Homo sapiens: one gene and its partner. The protein of the gene in region 2 purifies or fractionates together with the protein of the main gene of each other region. This does not show direct contact. Each region holds a gene or a part of one and is shown on either strand. Other genes may lie near its edges.

The links.
Region 1: the proteins of DENND2D (region 2) and TCOF1 purify together in Homo sapiens (affinity purification with mass spectrometry; 3 studies listed by BioGRID and IntAct, with this or other methods). This does not show direct contact.

The regions. Positions count from the first base shown.
Region 1 is NC_000005.10:150,395,697-150,399,470, reverse strand, and holds part of TCOF1 (treacle protein), read right to left. Parts: intron 3,190-3,774; coding exon 2,629-3,189; intron 1,118-2,628; coding exon 1,020-1,117; intron 450-1,019; coding exon 423-449; 3' UTR 401-422; intron 1-400.
Region 2 is NC_000001.11:111,187,047-111,190,646, reverse strand, and holds part of DENND2D (DENN domain-containing protein 2D), read left to right. Parts: intron 1-1,393; coding exon 1,394-1,435; intron 1,436-1,860; coding exon 1,861-1,945; intron 1,946-2,276; coding exon 2,277-2,516; intron 2,517-2,965; coding exon 2,966-3,042; 3' UTR 3,043-3,600. UniProt on the Homo sapiens protein: Guanine nucleotide exchange factor (GEF) which may activate RAB9A and RAB9B. Promotes the exchange of GDP to GTP, converting inactive GDP-bound Rab proteins into their active GTP-bound form.

The DNA of each region.
Region 1 (3,774 bases), on a different chromosome or scaffold from region 2:
CTTGAGTAAACCATCTTCCTTCCCAAAAGGAAATGCCCCCAAGTTACAGGATCATGAGGAAAATGAACCGCTCACAAGTGAAGGAGGAACCAAGCTGTATCCGACCTCACCTACAAACAGGCTCCATCCCAGGGCACACCCCCTAAAGCATGCACAACCCCTGCACCCAGGTGCACTCGGTGTCACCACTGCCATTACTGTTCTGGATCCTTCTGATGCTGCAGTGCCAGCTCCTGATGTCACCCCAGTGGCCCCATGGACCCTTGGCAACAGAACCTCTTTCCCCAGCCTCCTTTCCCCTTAGAGCCCACCTATCAGGTCTGCCTGGCTCTCTGGGACCACAGGGGACACCAGAGCTGTCCTCCCACCCTGAATGCTCAGGAATGATTGGGAAGCGTACCTGTGCCTGGTGCTGGTGCTCGTCATACAGTCTGCTCTGCTGTCTTCTTCTGTGAGGAGGGAAGTACGAGAGGCTCTCAGACCTGCAGCTTTTCCCCACCCACTGCTGCCCCCACCTCCTGAGGACTAGTGAATTCCCCTAGAATAGATACTGGGTCTGCAGCGACCTCCAAGGGCAGAGGCAAACAGATGTTCAGCTCTCCTAAATACAGCTGAGGCCCTGCTGGCCAAGGTGAGAACTTCATCTGTGTCTGAGGTGCTAAGGCCCCGCGCCGTGAGGACAGCTGTTGTTCAGGGCTAGCCTGCCAGCTGGGGCACACGCAGCCCAGGCAACGTTTCCTTTCACCTGGAAACCTGCCACAGTCTACCTGGTTTCCCTGTGCTGGGGGGAGTCTCTCCTTCCTTCCCCAACACCCTTCTACCTCCGGCAGGCCACTTCTACGGCTTCCATGTGCTCAGGGAACATGCCCTGCCAGCCTCTTCCCTGGTGTGTCACAACCCCTGACGCCCCCGACTGGGCCCCGAAAATGGGAAGGGGGCAGGAACCAGGTCTGGGTGTGTAGGAGGGGGCTTGGGTTTGGGTCTGTTTTCTGGCCTGAGACACCCCAGGAACTCTCTACCTTTTTCTTCTTTTTCTTCTGGGACGGTGACTCAGAATCTTTGGTTGAGGCCTTTTTTGCTTTCTTCTTCTTTTCTTTTTTTTCTTTGTCTTTTTTTCCTAAGGGAAGTAAAGTAAAGTTCCTGAACAACAGATGGTAATCCTAAGTGCTGGGGTCAATGTTGGGAGGTGCACAGGGCAGGGCTCCCAGCTTTCCCCACACCACCAGAAGCCATCACAACAGGCCAGCAGGGCGGGGCGTGGAGGTTCATTCCTGCAATCCCAGCACTTTGGGAGGCTGAGGCGGGTGGATTGCTTAAGCCCAGGAGTTCAAGACCAGCTTGGGCAACATAGTGAGACCTGTCTCTACAAAAAATACAAAAATTAGCTGGGGATGGTGGTGCACGCCTGTGGTCCCAGCTATTTGGGGGGCTGAAGCAAGAGGATCGCTTGAGCTTGGGAGGCTGAGCCTGCAGTGAGCTGCGTTCCTGACACTGAACTCCAGCCTGGGTGACAGAGCAAGACCCTGTCTCAAAAAATAAAAATAAAACAGGCTGGCAGCTGTGGTGATCACCCAGCAGGGCCAGTTCACCTGCCCCCTGGAGGCCAGCTCATGATTTCTGTCCCATCCATGGACCACCTGGATGACTACCATTTTTCTTTAGCTCAACTCACTTTTTAAAACTCCCGCAAATTTATTTTAAATGGACACTATCTATCCCTACTGTAAATGGAAATCTAGCACAGTTCTGAGCACCAAGGGGCTGCAAGTCCTGCTCTGAGGGTGCCCGACTTTTGTTCCAGAACGAGCTGGCTCTTCGGGCGTCACTGGCAACCCACCGTCCAGGGCGATGCTCGAGAGTGCTGCCTAGGTTTGACTCTGGCTCCACCTAGCAAAACTCTGTGGCCCTGAACAGCATCTCTACTTCTCCGAGCCCGAGCCGCAGTTTTCTACCTGCTGAGTCTCATTTCTACCTAAATGAGGTCCTGCTGCATGCGGAGTCTAGAACAGCACTCAGTAAAGGGCCAGTGTTACTATGGAGGGAAAACTGAGGTCTAGAGACAAGATGGGGTTTGGGATGAGGATTCTGACAGTCTGGTTCCTGGTCCATTCTGCACCCAGGAGCTGGCTGGAGAAGCAGGTTCCTCCAAGATCTGCTGCACTGGGCTTGGGGAAAGAGGACATGACTCCTCGTCCTTCTGGAGCATTCCTGGCAGTGCTGACTCAAGTGCTCTGGAATCGAGTTCGGGCTTTGCCACAAGCTGCCCCTGTGACTCTGGACAAACCACTTCTCAGCCTTTTTTTTTTTTTTTTTTTTTGACAGTCTTGCTCTGTCACCCAGGCTGGAGTGCAATGCGTGATCTCGGCTCACTGCAAGCTCTGCCTCCCGGGTTCAAACAATTCTCCTGCCTCAGCCTCCCATGTAGCTGAGATTACAGGTGCCCGCCACCACATCCAGCTAATTTTTTGTATTTTTAGTAGAGACGGGGTTTTGCCATGTTGGCCAGGCTGGTCTCAGCCTCTCTTTTCTACATGGGAGGAATGAGACCAGGTGCTGGCTGAGGGTCCCTCCCGCCCCCGTGGGGTGCCCAGCAGCCCTTGGGGTGGGCTGGGAGAAGCGGTCACTCACTCTTGTCGGATTTCTTCTTCTCCTTCTTGCTCTTTGGGTTGCTTTGATCTCCACCTTCAACCGTCCCCATCCCCTTCTGAAGCTCCTCTTCTGGCTCGTCCTTGGCCCCTTGGGAGCCAAGAGACCCCTTCCCTTTCTTCTCCTTGACATCACCACTTGCTTTGTCTCTCTTTGCTTTCCCCTTGGAAGTCGTGGAGGTCTTTTCTGGGGAAACAGAGGCCTCCCCACCTTCCCCGGCCCCCAGCTTCTTCTTCTTCTTGCTCCTGGGGGTCCTGGCAGCTGGCTGGTCTCCCGATAGCTTCCGCTTGCGGCTCTCCCAGCCCTTCCTGCTGCTCTCCTTGGTGGTGTCCACCACCTTCTTTCTTTCCTGTTCCAGCAGCTCAGTCAGGACCTTCACCACTGAGGCCTGCACCTGGGCCTCATTCAGGGGCCAGGGTTGGCCCAGGAGGCACTGGGTGATGTTGCTTTGCAGCGCCAGGGTTGAGGCTTGGGGGTTCCCAGCCCCTTTCTTGGGCTTCCGGGACTTCTGAGGTGTGGTGCCTGAAGCAGCCTCTTTTCCACCTATGGAGAGAGAATGTGGGGTCACAGATCTGGGAGAGTTGGGGGACAGATCTTATGGTACCTAAGAGCGAAGAGGGTGCAGGGAGTGACTCCATCTTTTCTTACAATGGCACAGATGGGGAGAGCAAGGCTTGGCGGTCACTCTGCCCCAGCTGGTCTCCTAAGCTCACACCTTTCCACCAATTTCACACCCTGACTTCATTTCTAACTTACAGCTTTTCCCTGTCTCTTTATACTAAAAACTCCAGTTAGGGTGGGGGACAGAAAATGACTCCAGAATGTTAATGAAAGGGCCTGAAATCTATCAATGGAATGAAAATTCAGAAAGGAGGGAGATGGAGTCTGGAGCTGGGAGGAAGGAGACCTGGGTTCTAGGTCTGACTTTCCCACCCACTTTCAGTGTGATTCTGGCCAGGACCCATCTCCTCCCAGGGCCTTGGTTTCCCTGTCTATAACGTGAGGGGTGGATGAACAGTAAGGCTTCCTATGATACATTGTAGATTTATAATAAAAGTGGGGGCCATGCAGACATTCAACTGATGATTACCCACACTCGGCCCTTCCTGGTCAGGGGGTCCAGGCAAG
Region 2 (3,600 bases):
GAAGTTACGGTAAACTGGTGGGAACATGCCCTGCCTAAAGCAGGCAACTGCTACTCAGTTCCATCTGAGTGTTGTCCTTTAGAAATGTGGACCCAGTGTTAGATCTCCTGACTTTTCAGGAGAAGCCCCAAATCCAAACTTTATGTGAGATAGTCCAGTTTAAATATTGGAAACCAAATCAATTACTTAAAAATACTGTGAAGATCAAAGAAACAGATCTGCTGGTTGGAATCAGCCAGCAGGATGCCTATTTGTAATCTCTGGTCTAGACTGAAGGCTCCCTGGGCAGTGATGGGGCCAGTGCTAAAACTCAGGTCCCCCAAGTTCCAGCCCAGTGCTTATCTCACTTGAGGACTGTAGACACATGGTCTCCTCACTTCCTTTCCTTTCCTCTTCCTGTTGACCCTGGGCTCATTTTCTTCCTTTGCTGTTTCCTGCTGGAAGGCCCAAAGCTGTGAGGTAGTTTTTTTTTTTTTTTTTTTTGAGACAGAGTCTCGCTGTGTCGCCCAGGCTGGAGTGCAGTGGCGCGATCTCGGCTCACCGCAAGCTCCGCCTCCCGGGTTCACGCCATTCTCCTGCCTCAGCCTCTGGAGTAGCTGGGACTACAGGCGCCCGCCACCACACCCGGCTGATTTTTTGCGTTTTTAGTAGAGACAGGGTTTCACCGTGTTAGCCAGGATGGTCTCGATCTCCTGACCTCGTGATCCACCCGCCTCGGCCTCCCAAAGTGCTGGGATTACAGGCGTGAGCCACCACGAGAGGCAGGAGTTTTTCTAATAGAAAATTGTACATAAGATGTTGCAAGCATGAAAAAAATAAAAAGATGTTGGTCTCTGTTCTAGAGAGCAGGGAGTTGAAGGGGAATTGTAGAGAGAGGAATGCAATCTCAAGAATATCAGTCTAGGCTTGGAAAAAAATTGGTTCTCTTATTAGCAGCATAGTATGACCTCGGGCAGCTTCTTTGGGTCTGTTTCCTCATCTTCAAAATGGAGATTGTATCTGCCTCACGGGACTGTTGCTTGAGATCAAACGTGTAAAGCACTTATGTGAACAATGTACTAAATGCTCCATGTAGAAGCAATTTCTGCAGTCAATGTTTTATTAAGGGAGTGACTGGCTGTGATTTCTCCATCTTGTATTTCCCTTCTACCTTAGCTCTTTCTCCTACTCCCTTCCTACAAACACCCACACCCTTTCCTCAGGAATGGAACTGAGATCTCCAGAGGGGAATGGTGAGAAAGGAGAATGCTAGATAGGAAATGAGAACTGAAGATATTGATTTTGTTGCTACCTGGGCTGAAAGATACAGCCACAGGCAGAAATCAAGACGGTAAATCCTCTGGGGGTCTATGAAGAAAGAGGACCAGAGAAAGCCAGTCTATGTTTATTTCAGGTCCTGCTGGTCAATCTTTGTGAAGGAACCTTCTTAATGTCGGTAAGTGTCTGGGTTCAGATCCCCTGCAGGCCTATCAACAACTCTACCACTCTAGTTTCATCCATGTTCCACTTATTTAAACAAACATTTAAGTTCTTTGTTGAGTGAGAATCTGTGCTAAAAAGACCACATCTCTCTCAAGGAGCCCATGGACATAAACACAGATGACTTCACTATAAGACAATCAGTGATAGTGCCTTTTAAGCAAGGGATATAAATCAAGTACCACCGGGATGGAGAGGATCCCTTGCTAATGTCTAGAGTCAAACTAAAGGCCAAGAAACAGCTTCTGTTGTTTCTGTCCTATGTGGCTATTTGCGGGTGGAGTGGGGGTGTAGAATTCATGCCCTCCTTATGCTTTTCTGCCAACCACCTTCACTCCACACTTCCTTCCTGCTTGACCTCGGAGCTCTGTCCTCTTCTAGGTTGGTGATGAAAAAGACATCCTGCCACCGAAGCTTCAGGATGACATCTTAGACTCTCTTGGTCAGGGGATCAATGAGTTAAAGAGTAAGTCCTTACTCTTATTTTGGGTCTCTCCAGGCAGTGCAAGGGCATGCTTCTCAATCATTCCCTTCCAGAACTAAAATGAACTCATTCAGTAGTCCTAGACCAGCCCTAGAGGCCTAGAACCTAGGGCAAGTCTGAATTTGGGATTGTATTCTTCCTAAGCAATGGCAGAGAACTCATACCCAGATTCCCATCTCAGTCAGTAATTATGAACCCTACCCTATGGCTTTCCCCAGGAGCTTTCCGCCTGCAAGAAAGCCATTCTTGAAGGTGAGTTTGGGTAATTTCATCCTTCTGCTACCCTCTGAGATGGCCTTTATATCTCCTGCAGCTGCAGAACAAATCAACGAGCATGTTTCAGGCCCCTTTGTGCAGTTCTTTGTCAAGATTGTGGGCCATTATGCTTCCTATATCAAGCGGGAGGCAAATGGGCAAGGCCACTTCCAAGAAAGATCCTTCTGTAAGGCTCTGACCTCCAAGACCAACCGCCGATTTGTGAAGAAGTTTGTGAAGACACAGCTCTTCTCACTTTTCATCCAGGAAGCCGAGAAGAGCAAGAATCCTCCTGCAGGTACAGTAACAGTCCCCATCAGTCTAAGCCCATAGAGGGTTACCTCTAGAATAAAGAGGAGGGGAAAGAAAGAATACTTCTCTTTAGAAACCCACAAAATAGCTGTAGGTAGACTTTTATTAGTGGAGTTGAAATGACATAACCTGAAACCTAAGAAAATGTCTAATGGGCTGCCATTTTGTGGAAGTTGGTTTACCCATTAGTGAACAGGACTGAGCCCTTTCCTCTGTTTTAGTCTAGAGCTAATTCCTGCTAAGTATCCTCTGTTTATGGGCTCCTTTTTGGACAAAACTGAATGTCTGGATCTCCAGAACCTGTGAGGCCAGAGACATCCTGGCAGGGATGGCAGTATGGGGAGCAGACAGGATATTTCTGATCCTTATTCCTGAGCTCATTATAATCTGCCTGACCAGATCAGATGCCTCTAACACCTGTATTTGAACCCACAGGCTATTTCCAACAGAAAATACTTGAATATGAGGAACAGAAGAAACAGAAGAAACCAAGGGAAAAAACTGTGAAATAAGAGCTGTGGTGAATAAGAATGACTAGAGCTACACACCATTTCTGGACTTCAGCCCCTGCCAGTGTGGCAGGATCAGCAAAACTGTCAGCTCCCAAAATCCATATCCTCACTCTGAGTCTTGGTATCCAGGTATTGCTTCAAACTGGTGTCTGAGATTTGGATCCCTGGTATTGATTTCTCAGGACTTTGGAGGGCTCTGACACCATGCTCACAGAACTGGGCTCAGAGCTCCATTTTTTGCAGAGGTGACACAGGTAGGAAACAGTAGTACATGTGTTGTAGACACTTGGTTAGAAGCTGCTGCAACTGCCCTCTCCCATCATTATAACATCTTCAACACAGAACACACTTTGTGGTCGAAAGGCTCAGCCTCTCTACATGAAGTCTGTGGACATGTAAGGACGAGAGTAAAGAGGAAAATCTTATTTTTATATGTGTCTTTGGCTTTTACTATGGGTAAAAGTATTTTCCTCGTGGAAAATAAGGCAATGAATATGACAATCAAGTGGACTACAAGTGGAAGACCTGGCCATGGGGATATGTTTGGAGTGATAGAAT